Regions from separate parts of the Homo sapiens genome. Here region 2 is linked to region 1. Evidence: fine-mapped expression QTL. Tissue or cell type: tibial artery. Region 1 holds a variant in brackets; the other region holds the start of a gene. All regions are shown on one strand. Distances are between the middles of the regions.

Region 1 (10,409 bases):
TTAGAAACTTGTTTTTTCAAAAACAGAAGAGAAAAAAATGCTCTTGAAGTGTTTGCATCCAAATAATTCATGAGTCAAAGAATCACAAGGAAATGATAAAACCTATTGGCTATTGAACAAGCAATATGATGAAATAATTATGTACACCAACAAATTAAGATTTAATTCAGAAATGCATTACAGAATGGCTCAATATTAGCCATATTATAAATATTAACATGGTTTGCTGCATAAATAGATCAAAAGAGAAAAAAACACATTTATGTCTATAGATTAAATACATTTGGGGGTAAAAGAGTCCTTAATTATTTATAAACACTAGTAATATAGGACGCTTTTTTTTAAGTTTAAAAGATCTCATCCCATAGATACAATCATGATTAATGGTGAAATATTAAAGTCAGGAATAGAACAAGAGAAGCCCACTGTTATTTAACATTGTCCGGAAAATACTTGCCAATTCACCTAGAAATGAAAATTAAATAGAAAGCATAAATCAGTAGAAAACAGAAAGGAGAAAATCTTCATGACCTTAGGTGGGTTTAGACTTTCTTAGACACAATACCAAAAGCATAAGCAATACAAATAAAAATAAGAGAAATTGGATTTTATCAAAATTGAAAACTTTTGTACTGCAAATGATACCATCAAGAAAATATGGCAACCCACAGAACAAGATAAAATTTGCAAATCATATATTTAATATGAAACTTGTGGCCAGGTGTGGCAGCTCATGTCTGTAATCCCAGCACTTTGGGAGGTTGAGGTGGGCAGATTACCTCAGGTCAGGAGTTCAAGACCAGCCTGGTGAAACCCCCATCTCTACTAAAAATACAAAAATTAGCCATGCATGGTGGCACATGCCTGTAGTCCCAGCTACTTGGGAGGCTGAGGCAGGAGAATCGCTTGAACCCGGGAGGCGAAGGTTTGCAGTGAGCCAAAATCACACTACTGAACTCCAGCCTGGGTGACAGAGCAAGACTGTCTCAAGATAAAACAAAAACAAAAGCAAAAAAATTAACCAGGTGTGGTGGCGGGTGCCTGTAATCCCAGCTACTTGGGAGGCTGAGGCACGAGAATGGTTTGAACCTGGGAGGAGAAAGTACCAGTGAGCCAAGGTCACACCACTATACTCCAGCCTGGACGACAGAGTGAGAGACTATGTCTCAAAAAAAAAAAAAAAAAAAAAAAAAAAAAGAAAAGAAAAAGAAAAAGAAAAAGAAAAGAAAAAAAAGAAACTTGTATCCAGAATAGATTAAAAAAATCCTTCCAACTTGATAATTTAAAAAATTTAACAACTCAATTAATTTATGGGCAAAGGATCTGAATAGATAGTCTCACAACTCAATTAATTTATGGGCAAAGGATCTGAATAGATAGTCTCTGAGAACTAAAAAGAAAATCCTAAGTCCCCCAACTGAATAAACAGTCCCCCTCTTGGCCAAGAGGAACCCAGAGAAATCTTAAAAACTGGGTTCCTGGCCATGCTGGGACGGGAGGTTGGACACACACCTCTCCCTTGCTAACCACCGTTAGACTTCCTCTCCTAAGAGTGACTACAGCAGGACTCCCATCCCTTTTGTGGTTTAGACACAACAACTGACCAGCATGAACATTAACACAGAGATCATAAGACTCACAGAACAGACTCTTTGTGGCAGTAAGACACCAAGTTATAAACATTACCTAAGGCCATGCCAGGCAAGGATAAAGTCACACACCCCTACACTTTTTATACTACTATTTATAAAAGTAAACTATGCTCTAACTGCCACAGGAGTTTCTTTTTCTCTAGCAGCTAAACAAGCACTGGTTTGGAGATAAACAATACTGAAACAATTGCAGCTTACCCACCGCCAGGCACTAACTGACCCCCTACCCCTCTGATTTACCAGCCATAACTGCAGCTTTGATTGGACAAGAGACTGATTTCAGTAACTTTCTCCTAATAAGAGACTACCCACCATGGCCTGGTTCTGGCCGGTTTACAGAGGCTGCTGTGCACTGAATACCTTCATGTCCTTTTGACATGTAGGGTTTAACTGTAATGCATTTATATGCAAAGTCTGCTACCTAAGGTAAACAAGGTAAACATGGGACGCATGTAACGTGCATGTTTGTTCAGTATGTATGCGTCCAGACCCCCCTCATGAATGTTCATAGTTCTTCCTGTAACTTGCTGAATATGCGTATTTGGCCAGCCCGTTCAGCATAAATTCCTGTTCCACCCTGCCCTCCCTCGAAGTGCTTGCTTTCGGTTTTCAGGTGGAGGCTGCGCTTCCGGCCTGTAGGTTGTGAACCCCTTCTTAAGAAATAAAGTTCTCCTTTCTAAGTCTATAAATCATGTGTTTTTTCAGCTGACATCTCCAAAGACATCCAAGTAGCAAATAAGCATGTGAAAAGATGCATCCCCAATGAGATACATCATTACTCATTGGGGAAATGCAAACCCAAACCACAGTGAAATACTAGCACACAAACACTAGGATGGCTGTGATCAGAAGGATAGACAGGCCGGGCACAGTGGCTCCTGTCTGTAATCCCAGCACTTTGGGAGGCTGAGGTGGGCAGATCAATTGAGCTCAGAAGTTTGAGACCAGCCTGGCCAACATAGTGAAACCCTGTCTCTAATAAAAATACAAAAATTAGCCGGGCTTAGTTGCGGGCGCCTGTAGTCCCAGCTACTCGGGTGGCTGAGGCAGGAGAATGGTGTGAACCTGGGGGGTGGAGCTTGCAGTGAGCCGAGATCGCCCCACTGCACTCCAGCCTGGATGACAAAGCGAGACTCCAACTCAAAAAAAAAAAAAAAAAAAGTGCTTCATTCCTTTTTACGCCTGAATAATATTGCATTGTACAGATATACACATTTATTATTATATTTTATCCATTCATCTATTGATGGATATTTGGGTTGTTTCTACCTTTTGGCGATTATTAATAAAGCTGCTGTGTACACATTCGTGTACAAAGTCTTTGGGGACATATATTTTCATTTCTCTTGGGTATACACCCAGGAGTGGAATTGCTGGGCCATTTGGTAAATCTATGCTTAACCTCTTGAGGAATTGCTAGACCGTTTTCCAAGAGTGCTGGGATTATAGGCATGAGCCACCACGCCCAGTCAACTTTAATTTTTTTAATTTTTTATTTTTTAGAGATGGGAGTACTTTTAATACAACATGGCTGAACCCTGAAACCATTATTATGCTAAGCGGAAAAAAAGACCACGCATTGTAGGATTCAATTGACATGAAATGTCCAGAATAGGCAAATGTATAGAGACAGAAAACAGATTAGTGTTTGCCTAGGACTGGGCAGGAAGGAAGGGGAGTGACTGTGAATAGCACAGGGTTTCTTTCTGGAGTGATGAAAATGTTGTGGAATTGACTGTGGCGATGGGCGCACAACACTGGGAACATACTGAAAACCATGGAATTGCACACTTCAGGTGGGTGAATGGTGAGGTATGTGATTATGTCTCAATAAAGCTGTTAACAGAGAGAGAAACACAGAGGAGAGAGAGAGAGAGGACTTCCAGACCCTAGTGACCATATTTGCATCCACTGTTCTGCCCTCCCGGCTTTGACCCTAGGAGAATTGTCTGTGCTTCTACCTATGGCCAATCCCCCACATCCACCAGCTCCAATACTCTAAGCTTCTCAAGGACTGGGCTCAAACAGTTCTCCCCTCTGAACTACCTGTTTTTCACATTCTATTCTATCAGTCTCATCAGCATACAGATATACTGTGATTTCTCCAATCCTAAAAAAAAAAATAAAAACCCCCAAAACAAAAACCTTTCAACCCCTCTTCCCTCAGCAGCTATCTTCTCATTTCTTTTTTATTTTATTTTATTTATTTATTTATTTTGAAACGGAGCATCACTCTGTTGCCCAGGCTGGAATGCAGTGGCATGATCTCGGCTCACTGCAACCTCCGCCTCCCGGGTTCAAGTGATTCTCCTGCCTCAGCCTCCCTAGTAGCTGGGATTACAGGTGCACGCCACCATGCCTGGCTAATTTTTGTATTTTTAGTAGAGACAGGGTTTCATCATGTTGGCCAGGCTGGTCTCGAACTCCTGTCCTCAAGCGATCCACCCGCCTCCGCCTCCCAAAGTGCTAGGATTATAAGCGTGAGTCACCGCACCAAGCCTATCTCCCCATTTCTTTGCCCTCATTTGCAGCAAAACACCTTGAGTTATCCCTATTCACAATCTCCAGTGTCTCTCTTCCCATTCTATCATATACTCACCAAAATCAGACCTTTGTTCCACCAAAGCCATTCTTGCCTGGAGCACATTGCAGAACCCACTGATCAGCCCTTGGTCCTCACCCACCTGGCCTGCCACCAGCATTGGGCAAAAGGGACCATGCATTCCTCTGTGGTGCACTTTCCTCACTTGGCTCCCAGGACGTGATAGTCTCCTGCTTTCTTCCTGTCTCACTGGTCCCTTCTTGCCTTGCTTTGGGTCTTCCTCATCTCCCTGGAGTCTTCGCGTTGGAATATTCCCGCTCTCAGTTATTGGTCCTCTTTGTGTCTCTATTTGCACTCCCTCGCTGACCTCGATCAGTCTTCAGGCTTTAGAAACTATCTATATGTTGATGACTCCCAAATGTATTATCTCTGAAACCACCTTTGCACCTTTGTAATACGACTGCGAGAGAAATCTGATAGCTGACTCCATTTTGCTCCTAACCTCACAAGCTGTCTTTGTTCATTCCTGGGCATAGGCCAAGCTAACTGTGGGAGGAATTTAGCTCATAGCTTAACTTTATTTTATTTATTTTTATTTAGTTATTTTGAGACAGAGTCTCACTCTGTCACCCAGGCTGGAGTGCAAGGGAGCGATCTTGGCTCAATGCAACCCCCGCCTCCCAGGTTCAAGCAATTCTCCTGCCTCAGCCTCCCAAGTACCTGGGACAAACAGGTGTACGCCACCATGTCTGGCTAATTTTTGTATTTTGAGTAGAGACAGGAGTTCACCATGTTGGCCAGGCTGGCCTCAAACTCCTGGCCTCAACTGATCTGCCGGCCTCAGCCTCACAAAGTGCTGGGATAACAGGCGTGAGCCACTGTGCCTGGCCCATAGTTCAACTTGAAAACAAAGATGACAATAGTCCCTTCCTGAAACTAACCCCCTCCTTGCTCAGGGACTAAAGCCACCTTTGTGAAACTAACAAATTAGCCACAAGGTCAAAAGATTTTACACCATCCCCAACTGCTCCTGTAGATAACATCACTATTGTAAAACCTACGACTAGTGTTTGAGGTATCTTTCAGACCTTGCTTTCCCATGGACCAGCTGGTGCCACCTGAACCAGTAACCCATACCAAGAAACTGGCTCAAATGATCTTGTGACCCCCACCCGGAAACTGTCATAGCACAATAAATGAAGAAGCTATAACTTCTACCCCCTATAATTTCATCCCTAACACAGCCGGCCAGCATTCCCCATTCCCTAGTACCCTGTCCACCAAACTATCCTTGAAAGACTCTAGCCTCCAAATTTTTAGGAAGGCAGGTTAAGAATTTATCTCCCAACTACTGCCAGGATTGCCTTGCAATTATTAAACTTTTGTTTTTTTTTGAGACAGAGTCTTACTCTGTCTCCCAGGCTGGAGTGCCATGATGCCATCTCAGTTCACTGCAGCCTCAAACTCCTGGGCTCCAGCAATCCTCCCACCTCAGCCTCCTGAGTAGCTGAGACCACAGGCATGTACCAGCATGCCCAGCTAATTTTTTGTATTTTCTGTAGAGATGGGGTATCGCCATGTTGCCCAGGCTAGTCTTGAACTCCTGGCCTCAAGCAATTCACCCACCATGGCCTCCCAAAGTGCTGAGATTAGAGGCATGAGCCACCACACCTGGCCCTCACTAAACTCTTTTTCTGCTGTAATACTCCTGCTCTTCTCTGTGTATTGGCTTTTCTG[G/A]GCAGCCAATAAGAAGAACCCATTGGGGTATAACATCTCCAGCTCTAACCTCTCTCCATAACTCCAAACTTGTATATCCAACCAAATATTCAACATCTGCCATTGCATGTGTACTGGACATCCTAAATCCTGTATGTCCTTCACCGAATGTTTAGCCTAAGCCCCTCCAACAGCTGTTCCACCCACTCTTTCCCACCTCAGCTGTGGGTCACTCCATCCTTCTAGCCGCTCAGACCAAAAGCTATCTCTTCCTCACACCCCATCTAACCCATCAGGAAATCTTGTTGGCTCTGCCTTCAAATATATCTAGAATCAACCCATCTGCTCACGTCCACTGCCAGCATCTTGGCTGGATCATCCTCTCCCACTGCCAGGCCTCTTTGCCCCTTACCATGGCAGCAACAGGGAACCTGTTTTAAAATATAATTTCAATCATTGCACTTCTCTGTTCAAAACCCTGCCATTGCTCCCCACGCACACAGAGTAAAGTCGAATTTCCTACTCTGTACTCTGTTCTGCAGGGCCCACATCTCTGTCCCCCGCCCCCACACGGCCTCATCTCCAGCGGGCCCTGTCCCCCAACTCCTGACTTCCTCGCCGTTCCTTTCACTGGGTGCCCTCTCTGCCCACACTCATCTTCACCCAGGTCAGAATTTCTCAACCTCCACACTACGGACATTTGGGGTCAGATGGTCCTCTGTCATGGGGGCTGTCCTATAGACTGTAGAGTGTTTAGCAGTGTCCCTGGGCTGTAGCCACCAGATGCCAGGAGCATCCTTGAGTCATGACCATCAAAAATGTCTCCAGCTGTTGCCAAATTCCCCTGGGAATACAATCGCCCAGGCTGAGAACCACTGGCCTAGACCATCTGTATGGTCCACATCTTCCCAACCTCTAATCTCATCTCACCTTCTCAGGGAGGCCCACCTTGACCCTTCCCTTCCTCCCTAACCCCACACTTCCAATCCCTCTTAGCCTACTTGGCTTTTTAAAGCAAGTGCCACATTCTAACACTACATAATTCATTTATTTTTTATTTTTTTAGAGACAGGGTCTTGCTCCGTTGCCCAGGCTAGAGTGCAGTGGCACAGTCATGGCTCACTGCAGCCTCCACCTCCTGGAATCGACTGATCCTCCCGCCTCAGACTCTCAAGTTGCTGGGACTACAAGTGCACACCACCATGCCTGGCTAATTAAAAAAAAATTTTTTTTTTTAGAGACGGAGTCTTGCTATGTTGCCCAGGCTTGTCTCAAACTCCTGGCCTCGAGGGATCCTCCCGCTTCGGCTTCCCAAAGTGCTGGAATTACAGGCATGAGCCACCACACCCGGCCATCATATACTTAAGTATATTAGTGTTCACTGTCTGCTGCCCTTACCAGAACACTGACTCCATGGGGGCTGGGATTCACCTCTGCTTCACGTCCTGCTGTATCCCCCAGTGCCTAGAACAGTACCTGACATGCACCCAGCACACACTTTGTTCTCCATAAATATTTGTTGAGTACATGGATCAGCTCAGAAGACCCAGTATAATAATAATAAATACAGTAAATCTGGGAACACTGGCTCATGCCTGTAATCCCAGCACTTTGGGAGGCTGAGGTGGGTGGATCACCTGAAGTCAGGAGTTCGAGACTAGCCTGGCCAACATGGTGAAACCGCATCTCTACCAAAAATGCAAAAATTAGCCAGGTGTGGTGGCAGGTGCCTGTAGTCCCAGCTACTCGGGAAGCTGAGACAGGAGAATGGCTTGAACCCAGGAGGTGGAGGTTGCAGTGGGCTGAGATCGAGCCACTGCACTCCAGCCTGGGTGACAGAGCGAGACTCCGTTTCAAAAAATAAAAAATTAATAAATAAATAAAGTAAAGGAGTCAATGTATCCTTATTTGTAAGGATAAATAGTAAACTTATCCTAAATTTATGTGTAAGTGAAACACTATCCTAACACTAATCTTCGCTAGATATTATTTGAAATGTGACGCCCTACATCCAAAATAATAAAAATGTGATATCACACAAGAATCATAATAGAGGGGATCTGCCTCCTAAGATACTAGAAATGCGCTCCTAAGCTACGATAATTAAAATCGTGGGTGCTGGGACTAGAAGAGTCAGGCTAGAACAGAAGAGTATAGAAGAGGCCCTAGTTAACACAGGAATTAAGCAAATGGTCAAGGTGGCATTTAAAAATCAGCAAGCAAAGAGTGAATGTTCCATAAATGATGCTGGTACAACTGGCTGGCCATTTCGCACCTGCGGCATATGTGTGTTATTTAGAAATATGGAGGCAGAACTGCAGTGCCTGCTGGGGAAATGGCTAGAAGAGTCATAGGTGGCTGCCTCCAGAACACGGGCTCAGGAGAGCTGGGGAGGGAGGGAGCAGAGAACTGGTAGATTTGTTAAAAGCCTTTTTTTTATTATTTATGCCTTCTTAAGCTATGCACATGCATGACTTTGGTAAAAATAAAATGTATGTTAAAAAGGCAATAATCACGCCCCTCTTTAACCTATCTAATTGACACAGATTTAAAAAATAAAAAACAAAGATTCCCAGTGCGGTTGTGATTATGAGAAAAAATAGGCCCGCTCACGCACCGCTTGGTCTTTCTGGAAGGTGATTTGTTGGGAAGTACTAAAAGTTTTAAAGACGGGCATACCCTTTGAGACAACTATTCCACTTCTAGGAATTTATGCTGGGATGGCACAAAGGTATACTGCAAGAAGGTTCATGTCAACATGCTTTAAAATTGAAAAACAAAAACGAAAACCCCCAAAATGTCCAACAAGGAACCGGTTCTATAAATTATGATAAATTCATGGAAAGGGATGCCGTGTAGGTGTCAAAAGCAAGACAGAAACAGATTCATCACCATGGAAAAGAATTCATGATATGCAAAGTGATTAAACAGGTTATGTGCGGTAGGCATAAAGATTATTGCATTTTGATAAAATGAAAATGATTTACGAGTTTACGTATATAAAGCGATAGAGACGTAAGGTAGCCCCTTCTCTGGGACAATGTATGCCAACACCAGAGCCAGAAGGATTCAAAGGACGGTAAGACTTTAATCTTCTTTTTGCTCTTGCAAAGGCATTTCCGCAGGGAATCTTTAAGACTCCTGGCTGGGCGCAGTGGCTCACGCCTGTAATCCCAGCACTTTGGGAGGCTGAGGCAGGCAGATCACTTGAGGTCAGGAGTTCAAGACCAGCCTGGCCAACATGGTGAAACCCCATCTCCACTAAAAATACAAAACTCAGCCGAGTGTGGTGGTGCGTGTCTGTAATCCCAGCTACTAGGGAGGCTGAGGCACAAGAATTGCTTGAACCCAGGAGGCAGAGGTTGCAAAGAGCCGAGATCGTGCCACTGCGCTCCAGCCTGGGCGACAGAGACCCTATCTCAGAAAAAAAGAAAAAAAAAAGACTTATGAAGGTGGAAGCTAGAATGCTGAGGTCAGATTCCTTGGAAGTGGGAGGTGGAGTGGGGGGGGGCCCTCTGCTGCCCACTCATCCACGGGGTCCTGGGGGAGTGGGCCAGACTCCAGAGGCACACAGAGCCCAGCCAGTCGCCCACCCATCTGCAGTCCCAGAGGTGAGGGCTTTGGCCCCTTCCCAGCAGACAGGGATGTCCCAGAACAAAGGCCACAGTCAGTGGGTGCTGAGCCCCACAGCCCTGCAGCCATGGCCTGTGGTCTTGGTGGTTCCTGTCCCTTTCCAGGGCTCTGGTGAGACACTAGGCCCCAGGCCCTCATCCTCCAGGCGGAAATCATCCACCTTGTCAGTGAAGTTCTGGACTCCAAATTCTTCAGGCCCAGAGGCCAAAGTAATATACAGACATATGGTTTGGTCAGCGTAGGACTTTGGTTTTAAATTCTGAATTAGTCTCCAGACTTCAGAGGGGAAGCGATTTCATATAAAAATGGACCTGTGTTCTTGAATATGTGAATACCTGGCCACCCTGGAAACCCTCATCCCTTTCTGCGATGACAGCGGGAGTCCCACTGCCCCCTTCCAAAGCAGCAGGTCCCCCCTCCCCACACACCGCCCCCGACATCCCAGACCATACCCCTCCTTTGCCCTGAGGCCTGACTCCAAGGGTAGCTAAATTTTCCACCCTGGGCTGTCCAGAACCCCCTCATTTCTGGGCTATCTGAGGCTCCTTCTCCCTACTTTACCAGCCCCCTTCTTCCCTTCCATCTTCAGCTATGGGAACCAGTTCCAATACACCACCAATCCCCAGCCGGTGTGCCACCTTGCCCCCCTGGGGAGATAGAAGTTTCCTTGCAGAAAACTCCTCACCGCAAGCTGAGGTGTGGCAGCTCAGATCTGGGGGAGCCCTTAACCCTGCTGCTCCTCAAACCCTGCCCAGGGGGTGGTGGGGCGGAGATCTAGGCTGAGACTGAGAAGCTGGTCAGTGCCTCACCCCCAGTCCTGACCTCAAGAAGGGGTCTCGGGCCAGAAACAGCAATCCTGTTCCCCG
Region 2 (10,409 bases), 24 kb after region 1:
TGGGAGGCTGAGGTGGGAGGACTGCTTGAACCTGGGAGACAGAGGTTGCAGTGAGCCGAGATCACACCACTGTACACTCCAGGCTGGGTAACAGAGCGAGACTCCGTCACCCCACCCGCCCCCCCCCCAAAAAAAGAGGACAGGCATGCTGGCTCACATCTGCAATCCCAGCACTTTAGGAGACTGAGGCAGAAGGATTGCTTGAGGCAAGAAGTTCAAGATGAGCTTGGACAACATAGGGAGACCCCATCTCTATAAAAAAAAATTAAAAATTAATGGACATGGTGGTGTGCATCTGTAGTCCCAGCTACTCAAGAGGCTGAAGCAGGAGGATTGTTTGAGCCTGGAAGTTCAAGGCTGCAGTGAGTTATGATAGCACCACTGTACTCCAGCCTGGGCAATAGAGCGAGACTCTGTCTCTAAAAAGAAAAAAAAAAAAAAAAGGAAAAAAAAAGCGGCTTATTTGGCTCACAATTCTGCAGCCTGTACAAGAAGCATGGCACCTGCATTTGCATCTGGTGAGGGCCTCGTGCCCTTCCACTTAAAATGGAAGGAGAAGAGGAGCCGGTGTGTGCCGAGATCACAGAGGTAGGGGGTAGGTGCTAGGCTCTTTTTAACAACCAGCTCTTGTGGGAACTAATAGAGCAAGAACTCACTCCCTGCCTCACAATAGCATTAATCTATTCATAAAGGGGCCACCCCCATGACCTACCTCCCACCAGGCCCCACCTCTAACACTGGGGATCACATTTCAAGGTAAGATTCACAGGGGACAAACATCCAAATTATTGCACAGATACTCTCTGACTTCCTAAAAGGTGGCTTTGGCAATGGGGCCAGGGCTGCTTCTTGGTGTCAACCCACCTGCACGGAGGCTTCCCCAGTCTCTCGGTGGCCCAGGCTGCATTGCTGAGTTTCTAAGGGTCCGGGAATGAATCCAGCCAGTGCAGGCTAGAACACCACATCACAAATGACAGGTAGTTTTGTACAGGGTAAAAGTCACAACTTTTTTCCATGACCAATTTGTAAGCCTCACGATCTGCCATGCTGATTTACTGACCACAGGGTCACACATCCTCCAGCTGATAAGAAATGAGATGGCGTCTGCCGCATCCTCTGGCACCTGAGCTAATGCAGCTCTGTCCCCGGGTTGTCTGGGTCCGTGGGTTTCCTCTGGAGGGAACACAGCCGCTCTGGAGTCAGATGAGCCCTGAATATGGCGCCAAAGACAGCACCAAACAGCCTACTGTCACCACGCTGTCACCATGCAGATTGCTCATGCCCAGCCAACTTTCTGAGGTTGCAGGACACTGATGCCATATCTACATCCAGGCACCAACCTCAATTTAAAAAAAAAAATTTATTTTGAGACAGTCTCGCTTTGTCGCCTAGGCTGGAGTGCAGGGGCATGATCTCGGCTCACTGCAACTTCTGTCTCCCAGGTTCAAGTGATTCTCCTGCCTCAGCCTCCTGAGTAGCTGGGACTACAGGTGAGCACCACCATGCCCGGCTAATTTTTGTCTTTTTAGTAGAGACTGGGTTTCACCACGTAGGTCAGGCTGGTCTCAAACTCCTGACCTCAAGTGATCCACCCACCTCGGCCTCCCAAAGTGCTGGGATTACAGGCGTGAGCCACCGTGCCTGGCCGATCTTTTAAAAACATATTTACTTATTTATTTCATTTTTTGCTGTGCCACTGCCGGGTCACATTGATCTCCTTGGGCCAGCACTATATAAATCTCCAGTTTATAACTCGTCACCTTCTGGTTAGCTGAAAGGCTGGCCACTCATTCCACATGGTGTTTATCGGCTCTAATTGCCACGGTTGCTCACTAAAGAGCAGCCATGCGGGGCGCGGTAGCTCACGCCTGTAATCCCAACACTCTGGGAGGCCAAGGTGGGCGGATCACGAGGTCAGGAGATCGAGACCATCCTGGCCAATATGGTGAAACCCTGTCTCTACTAAATACAAAATTAGCCGGGAGTGGTGGCGCATGCCTGTAATCCCAGCTACTCGGGAGGCTGAGGCAGGAGAATTGCTTGAACCCAGGAGGCAGAGCTTGTGGCAAACAGAGATCGCAACATTGCACTCTAGCCTGGGCAACAAGAGTGAAACTTTATCTCAAAAAAAAAAAAAAGAAAGAAAGAAAGCTGCCATAATCCTGTGTCCTCTTTCCTGCTCACAGGTTCCCCGCTGCCCCACGTTTCTCCAGTGTGGCTGCCACGCACCAGTAAATCAGGGAGGGAGGTTTTTCCAAGCTGCAAAGCAGCAGATGTAGCTAAGACAGGGATCTCAGATTCCAGGCCAGGCAGCAGGCAGGAGATGGGGACATCAGCCAGGGACCTCAGCTTGGGCCACACCTTCCCCATCAGCCCCTACAAGCACAGCCGCACTCACTAAAAATTTCTCCAGCCAGACGCATCAGCAATGATCAAAGCTCCCCTTCCTCTCTTCCATCAGCAAAACCACAAAAAGCCTATCAGGCTGCCTCTGGCAGGAACTCAGAGCTCAGAGCAGGGGAGCAGCCTGCGCGAGGTTTCCAATCAGGCAAATCTGACTCTCCCCTTTTTAAGAGAACTGAAGACAAATTCTGAGAGTAGCCCACCAGACACACTTTCTCAACAACCATACGGCAAAAAAGTCGTTTTTGAACTTTCCCAGACTTATTAGCTTACATAAACAGAGATTTGAATAAATGTTTAAAAAATGAAATTCCCTGGATACCCTGTAATCAGTAAATGTTCATTATGGAAACACAGCAAATATGCATGAAATTTCCCAAGTGATATTCTGGCTACAAGATTATAAAGGCATCTCTAACAGCAGGCTGAGTTACAAAGCATCCTCTGTCGTCGGTTACAGTCCGAGGGGGATGTTCTACCAAGCCCAGGAGGTCAGACGAGCCTGCTCTCCTCTCCCAACTGGAGCCAAGGAAAATCAAAAGATGCTCATTTTGCCTGCTCAGGCAATTTATAAATGAGCCCCCACGCTGCCTGATGGATGCCTCTCGATAAATAATTAATCCTTGACCTTGCTTTAAGAAAGCCTTGACTTTTTAATTTGGGGTCTTTTTAAAAATCAATACCCGGGAAACATAATTCACTCTTGCCGAGTCTGATTCCAGGTTAATAAATAAATAAGTAAATAAATGAGCTGCACTGTTTGTGTGTCCCAGGGCGACTGGGCCAGGCAATGGGTCAGGTTCCGGCTTTGAGGTTTTTCTGTGTTCAAATGCTATTGGATAATTGATCAGCCAGTCCCACTGGAACCAACATTCAGACCCTCAAGAGGTCCCTCTCTTCAGGGTTCCAATGTTATTCCTCCCGTGGGTCACTTCACAGAGGCCAGTCTGCTGAACGCTCCTGAATGAACTCCCACGCCGCCTTCTGTGCTTGGGGTGTCCTGATTAAAATTAAAAGAGGATCTCCTGCTGGGATGAGTGTCCTTCCTGTGGCCTGTCTGCCTTGCCTTTGGGACAGGGCACAGGGTGGGCAGGAAAGGTCATGACAGCTGGAAAATGTTAAGGGCTCTGCCACACCTGCTCCACGGGTGCCCTGTCCTAGGGCAGGACTTAGGGAAAGACTTCCCCACAGGTAGGCAAGGGTCAAGGTGAACTCAGAAGAGAAAGGTTACCCAGGAAAGTGGGCTTGGTATTGTAGCTCCTGGGGGCCTTGGGCGGCGGTGGGAAATAAAAGGGGGTTGATCTGCCTCTTACCCCTCTGTCCCCCGCCCCTCTCCACCATCCACTCCAAAGCAGCTACTACCTCCCTGCACCCAACGCCTCTCCCACGTGCTCTGCTGCTGCGCCAGATCGCGCCAAGCAGATGGAGAGGGGCCGGGACGCGCGTTCCCCTTAACGGAGCTGATCACGGCTCCTGAGCCAGCGGGAGTGGCCCAGGGACGCAGAGTCCTCTGGGACGCCGGAGACGACTGCAGGACAGAGAGCCCCAGGATCGGCGCCTACTTCTGGGTTAAAACAGACAGCCGGGCAGCAGCGCCCACAGCCGAGGGCGCCGCAGCCGCTTCAACTCCGGGTCGGGGTCGCGGGCCTGGAGACAAGATGTACGCGAAAGTTAGGGCGGCGGGAGTCCCGCACTGGAGAAGGAATCGGGGTCACATCAGACCCAAGCCCCAGCATCGGGCACTGCCAAAACCCGTGATCGCCCTCCTGGCCCGGCTGGCCTCCAGCGAGGCCAGAGCGGGTCTGCAGAGTCGGTAGCCGGAGTTGCAGCCGCCGTCAGAGCTCGGCTCGGTCCCGCGGCCAAACGGATCATTTCCCCGCCCCCTGGAGCCGCCCCAGGCTCCGACTCCCGCACTCCCGACACACGCACGCACACACCTTCACACCATCGCTGACGCACGCACACTCGCCTCCAGCACTCACAGGCCGGTGCCCTGGAGAGTTGCGGGTCGGGGACGCGCGCGACGGAGCCGCTGGGTAGGAAGCCAAGGCCACTTAAACTTCCCCCATAGTCTCTGCCCGCCGCAACCCGTCCGGAGCCCCGGCTCCGAGCGCGCCAGGAAGCCCCAGCGCCCCGAGCGCTCCTGCCTGGCCCTCGGCGCTCGCTGCTCAGCGCCCGACGCCGCCTCCCCGCGGGCAGCACCGAGGGCCAGGAGGCGGAGCGGGAGTCCGCAGGGACCAAGAGGGCCCGAGGGACGGCAGTTCCCAGAAGCGCGGCAGCGAGTGAGATCCAAGGAGAGAAAGTCTAATTAAAGTTCCCGCTACCGGGGCCGGTCCCCAAAGTGCAACCAGACCCGAGCCCCGCGCGCCCACCTCCGCCCGCAGCTTCGGACTCCCATTCGCGTGCGGTGGCGGGGATGGCGAGCGGTGCAGTCCGGGGCCCGCTCGGGACCCCTTCCTGGCGTCTCTGCAGGCCAGGAGCCTGCGCAGGGCGGGAACAGGGGTGGGGCAGGGGCGCAGCCACTTACCTGGCGCAGCGGACGCACCCGAGGCCGCGGGCGCCTCCAGTCCGGGAGCGGTTCTCCGCGGCGGATCCTCTGCTTGGGGCGCGCAGGCGGCGGAGAGGACCTCCGACCCAGCTCGGGCCCGGTGCCTCCGCCCGCTCCAAGCGGAACCCAGTGCGATCTGTGGGCGAGCAGCGTGGGGCCGGCAGCCGGAGCGTGCGGGGAGCGAGAGGGCGCGGGGCGGCGTTCCTCTTCGGCCCCCGGCGCGATCGGTCCCCCACCTCCTGCTGCCGCCGCCGCCTCGTCCTCTCTCCTCCCCGCAGCACTGCCGGATCCGGCTTGCGCGCCGGGAAGGCTCCCAGCGAAGTGAGAGCGAAGCCTCCGGCGAGGCTGGAAATAGCGCCGCGCCCGCCCGGCGCCCCGCCCCCGGCCCGTGCCCCGCCCCGCCGTGGTGGCGGCTACGGCGGTGGCCGGGCCGGGCGGGGATCGCTCCAGCGATGCACTCGGCCCTCCCGGGGGCTCGCGGGCGCCGCGCCCACGCGCGCTCTGCGGCTCCCGCGGCCCCTCTGGCAGCGCTCTCAGAAAGAGTCGCTGCTGGGCGCGGTCCGGCGGCCGCGGGGGTGGGAGCGGTCGTGGCTGGGGCTGCGCCGGTCTCCCGGTTCAGGAGAGCCGGACTCCGGCCTGACGCTAGGCTCCAGACCGCGGCCAGTGCTGCCACTGCCTCGGTGGGTCGCACGCGGCGCCAACCCGGGAAAAGGACCAGGCGTCACCGGGGCGGGCCTTGACCACAGCGGGGCAGGGGCGCGCGCCCAGGACCCGATGCTGCGGGGGCGCAGGGCCGGTGAAAGGCGGAAGATTGATCCTGAGGAAGATTCTGGGATATCCCTGGGCTTCAGCTCGCGTGGAATTCGGTCAAGGCCGCGAGCTGCCTCAGGCCCGGGTGTCCGCATCCATCCTCAAATCCCTGGGGCTCTAGATTCTGCTGAAAGTGCCCTGCGAACAGGTGCTCCCTTCAGGACTTCATCCTGGAAGTTTGTGTCGGGTCACCAGCCTGAGAGCGGGGCCAACCGACCCTCTTCATACACACTCGGGAAAACAGCGTGGAGGGTGGAACCGGCCCACGGCCACACAGCACCGGGACAGAGTAGGGACAGGAACACGGGGCCCTGGATTCGGGTCCTTGTTCTTCCTAAGAAGAGGCAGCCCCAGCCTGCAGGGGACAAGCAGGCCTTGGGAAGGGGGGCAACTGCTTTCTCACAGGAGCTGGAGGAAACTGTGCACACAGTCACCTGTTAGTCTTGAAGGGACACTCAGTATTTTCAAACAACAGCAGAGAAGCCTTTAATAAAGTGAAAGACCCTTACTCTCTCCTCTCTAATGGTACCTGCTGGCTGGTTGGCCTGACTCCTACCAGCTGACCTAGAGTGAGTGATGGAATTGGGGAGTGAGCTGGGCCCATGGGTCTTGACTGACCAGAGTGGGGGACACCAGGCGGAGAGCAGAGCCACTCCTGGGGACGGCCAGGGAGCCCCTCAGCCCCAGGGCCATGAGGCCTCCTTAATGCCCCAGGTAAGCTCAGAGCATCCAAAAATAGACCAGGACAGATAAGAAGATAAATAGAAGCATGACAAAGAGATCATGGTCTTCCTTTAATTCTTGCAGCAACAGAGTAGACATTATCACTCCCGTATTACAGATGAGCGAATTGAGATGCAAAAATGCCACCATTTTGCTGGACTCCACGCATCTGGAGAATGGCCCAGGTGTGATGATTCCAAACTGGGATAGGCTTTGTTCTGGGGTTCCCTTTCCAGGACTTTAGGCTCGGAGTGACCCAGGCCTGGGGCTGCGCTGGGACCCAGGCACACTCCACTGGCTGCACGCATGAGGGGAATGTGTGTGTGTGTGTGTGTGTGTGTGTGTGTCTGAAATCACCCTCCTCCGCCTCAGTCAGGTGCAGATTGGAGGAGCTGAGTGCAAGGGCCAGGGACTCAAGTGTCAGGAAAAACAGGGCAGTGGAACCCTTATTCATCCTACATCCCAAAGCTGTTGGAGCAGAGCAGGAGAGAAGGTAGGAACAAAGAGAGGGGAGAGTGGAGTGAGCAAAAAGTCACTTGCCGGACTAGCTCACAGTGCAATGACCCCATCCCTGTCCCTGTGGTCCCCTTACCCCACACTTGCAGCCCCTCTTGCCACCCAAGGTCCTGACCATAGCTTGGCTGGGCAGCTGCCCATGAGCTCCCTGTCTGCAGTTAGGCCTGGAACAGAGCACACAACTTTTGCCACAGAGGCCTGATGGTCAAGAGAATCTCTTCAGTACCATGAACACTCCAGAGGGCAAATGCATGCACACACACACACACATGCACACACACGGAGAGAGAAAGAGAGACTTAACTGCAATGGGGAGATAATAGGAGCTCCCATTTCCAGAGCCCAGCCTCAAAGCTGGAAAGGGGGCTCTGGACCATGAGTACTTCCATGCGACAAGTCTACACAGGCTTTATTTCCCTGGGATGCATCTATACAGGCTTTGCCGTGACCAGTGAGTGGAGCGAGCCAAGCCATCTCAGCAACACTGTGCATCTGTGTGCCGCGATCCTCCTGGGAAGGATGGTTTTTCCATTAGCTTTCCCAACTGTACTTATTAGCACTTATTTGCATCTAATATTCAGGCAGACACCACTAGGAATCAATAACGCTGCATTCCTTTGACATTCTCTCCATTTTCCATTTTTAACTCAGACTTCCTTCTTGTTTTGAGAGGCCATGGGGGAAATCCCCAAAGGGGGCCTGAGGCCCCTGGCACCAACTCGCAGTGAGTTTTCCTCCGAGATTTGCCAAGGGCTGCGTGCCCTTTTTTGAAAGTCAGGCTCAGCCTCTGCAGCGAGGGAGGAGCAGGAAGGCTGCAATTCCCTGCAGGAAGCCTTGTGTGCTCACTTGCGATTTTTGATATGTGTGTCTCCACCGAAAGATTAGTGGCAAACTTGTCTCTTTGCATCCCAACTAAGGTGAAAGACATTTTTAGTGCATGGCCCCATGCGCCCACAGCCTAAGCCCCAGAAGGGCTAATAGAGAGGTTCAGGTGCCAATCTGTTTGCTGCAACAAGGATACAGGAAAGAGGAGGGGGCTTGGCTCTGGGACGCAGGCAGACCCCCGCCTCCACTGGCTCTGGGCTCCCTTTCCTCAGGCCGTTCCTGCAAGTGAAGGTTCCTGCCCGTCTTTGGGCTGGAGGCTGAAGGTGGCACAGTGGGAAGCTGAGACTGTCTCACATTGTGTTTGGCAAGACTGAGTCTTGAGTCCTGAACCTTCCATCTGTTGCCATGAGAGGAACCAGAACAGGCTGGGCATGGTGGCTCATGCCTGTAATTCCAGCACTTTGGGAGGCTGAGGTGGGCAGATCACTTGAGGCTAGGAGTTTGAGACCAGCCTGGCCAACATAGCAAAACCCCATCTCTACTAAAAATACAAAAGTTAGCAGGGCATGGTGGTGCTCACCTGTAGCCCCAGCTACTCAGGAAGCTGAGGCAGGAGAATCACTTGAATCTGGGAGGCAGAAGTTGCAGTGAGCTGAGATTGTGCCACTGCACTCCAGCCTGGGTGACAGCGTGAGACTCTATTAAAAAAAAAAGAAGAAGGAGAAGGAGAAGGAGAAGAAGAAGAAGAAGAAGAAGAAGAAGAAGAAGAAGAAGAGAAGAGGAAGAAGAGGAAGAAGAGGAGGAAGAGGAGGAAGAGGAGGAAGAAGAGGAAGAAGAGGAAGAAGAAGAAGAAGAAGAAAAGAAGAGGAAGAAGAGGAAAAAGAAGGAGGAGGAGAAGAAGAGGAAGAAGAAGAAGAAGAAGAAGAAGAAGAAGAAGAAGAAGAAGAAGAAGAAGAAGAAGAAGAAGAAGAAGAAGACGAGGAAGAAGAAGAAGAAGAAGAAGACTTGTTCCACAGAGGAGTTTGGGAGCCATCTATACTGGCAGGTCGGGAACACCTCATCTGTCTCCCTGCATCCCATGGGAGGAAGAAGGGAATGATGGGATGGGCCAGGAGGTCTGCTTCAGCTCTCCCAGGTGCCAGCTAGGGGGTCTTGAACTTGTCTCCTAACCCCTCAGAGCCTGTTCCCTGTATGCAGAGACAATAGACTGTCCCTGCAGAGGAAAGGTGAAGGGTGTCATGGCATTTTGGGAATTGGAGTCCTGTGACCAGACTGCCCTTAGCCACCCACAGACTAGTCACCTCAGGGTATGACGTGGCCTGGCCTTGCTTCCACGTCCAACATCTGGCCCTGTAATGGCCTCTGCAATATTGTGACCCCAAGGCTTCCTGAAGTCAGTTCAACACACAGACAGGCCAGTGACGTGCTGATCAGAGTGCCATCCAGGCGGGAGACTCCTCCTGGGAACGGACCTGCCTTCCTCAGCTGCTCTCTGGGGCCTGTGTGGGCTCCGGGCCATGCCTTCCCTCCCCAGGCCTCGACCTCCCCATTCGAAAGATGAGGGATGGGGGCCCAGGATCTGAAGGCCTGCTGTGCAATTCCATGATTCCTAAAAGTTCCTCACCAGGGAACGTGGCCCAGACTCATTTCCAGCCAAGGTATCCCTTGGCCACCTTATGGGATGAATGTTCCTTCCCAGGCCTTTTCCTCCTCTCTCCTTTCCCCTTTTCTGTCACCTCTTGGGTTTTCAAGGAGCTGGAGGGTCACTTTGTTTCCTTCTGAGTTGAGTTGTCTGAAATTTCCTGATGTCAATATGCCTGGGTGGGTATCCCCTGCATAAGCAACATTGCTGGGGGTTCTGGGCATCCCTGAACCCCATATACCTGTCACAATTTCGAAATTTCACCATCATTCCTCAGGGTATAAGAATGGTTTCTCTTGGCTGGGTATGGTGGCTCACGCCTGTAATCCCAGCACTTTGGGAGGCAGAGAAGGGCAGATCACAAGGTCAGGAGTTCAACACCAGCCTGGCCAACATGGTGAAACCCCATCTCTACTAAAAACACAAAAATTAGCCAGGCGTGATGGTGCACGCCTATAATCCCAGCTACTGGGGAGGCTGAGGCAGGAGAATTGCTTGAACCCAGGAGGTGGAGGTTGCAGCGAGCTGAGATGGCGCCACTGCACTCCAGCCTGGGTAACAGAGCAAGACTCCGTCTGAAAAAAAAAAAAAAAAAAAAAGGAATAGTTTCTCTTTAAAGAGAAGTTTTTCTGGGGCAGGCTAAAGTGACACCAGTCCTTAACACAGAAGAGAGTTGGTGAACAGATGTGGTTTTCTAGAGAGTGCACAACAGAAACTATGACTAACTTGCAAAGAAAGGGGAGACTTTATTTTTCTGAGACAGAATCTCACTCTATCACCCAGGCTGGAGTGCAGTGGCATGACCCTAGCTCACTGCAACCTCAAACTCCTGGGCTCAAAGGGTCCTCCCACCTCGTTCTCCTGAGTAGCTGGGAACACAGGTGTGCACCACCATGGCCAACTAATTTTTTATTTTTTATTTTCTGTAGAGACAGGGTCTCA

The links.
Region 2: it holds the start of CHST8, and the variant in region 1 is fine-mapped to the expression of CHST8 in tibial artery (GTEx, PIP 0.99).

What each region holds. Positions count from the first base shown.
Region 1 is chr19:33,641,307-33,651,715 of GRCh38, reverse strand. All of the region lies in intron 1 of CHST8 (carbohydrate sulfotransferase 8), which reads right to left. Among named protein-coding and RNA genes, the nearest start is that of CHST8, 25 kb to the right of the region's middle. The variant G/A (reference allele first, on the strand shown) is at 5,932.
Region 2 is chr19:33,616,818-33,627,226 of GRCh38, reverse strand. CHST8 (carbohydrate sulfotransferase 8) reads right to left here and starts at 5,274. Exons shown (of 5, transcript NM_001127895.2): 1 at 4,931-5,274. RefSeq lists an enhancer at 5,569-6,313.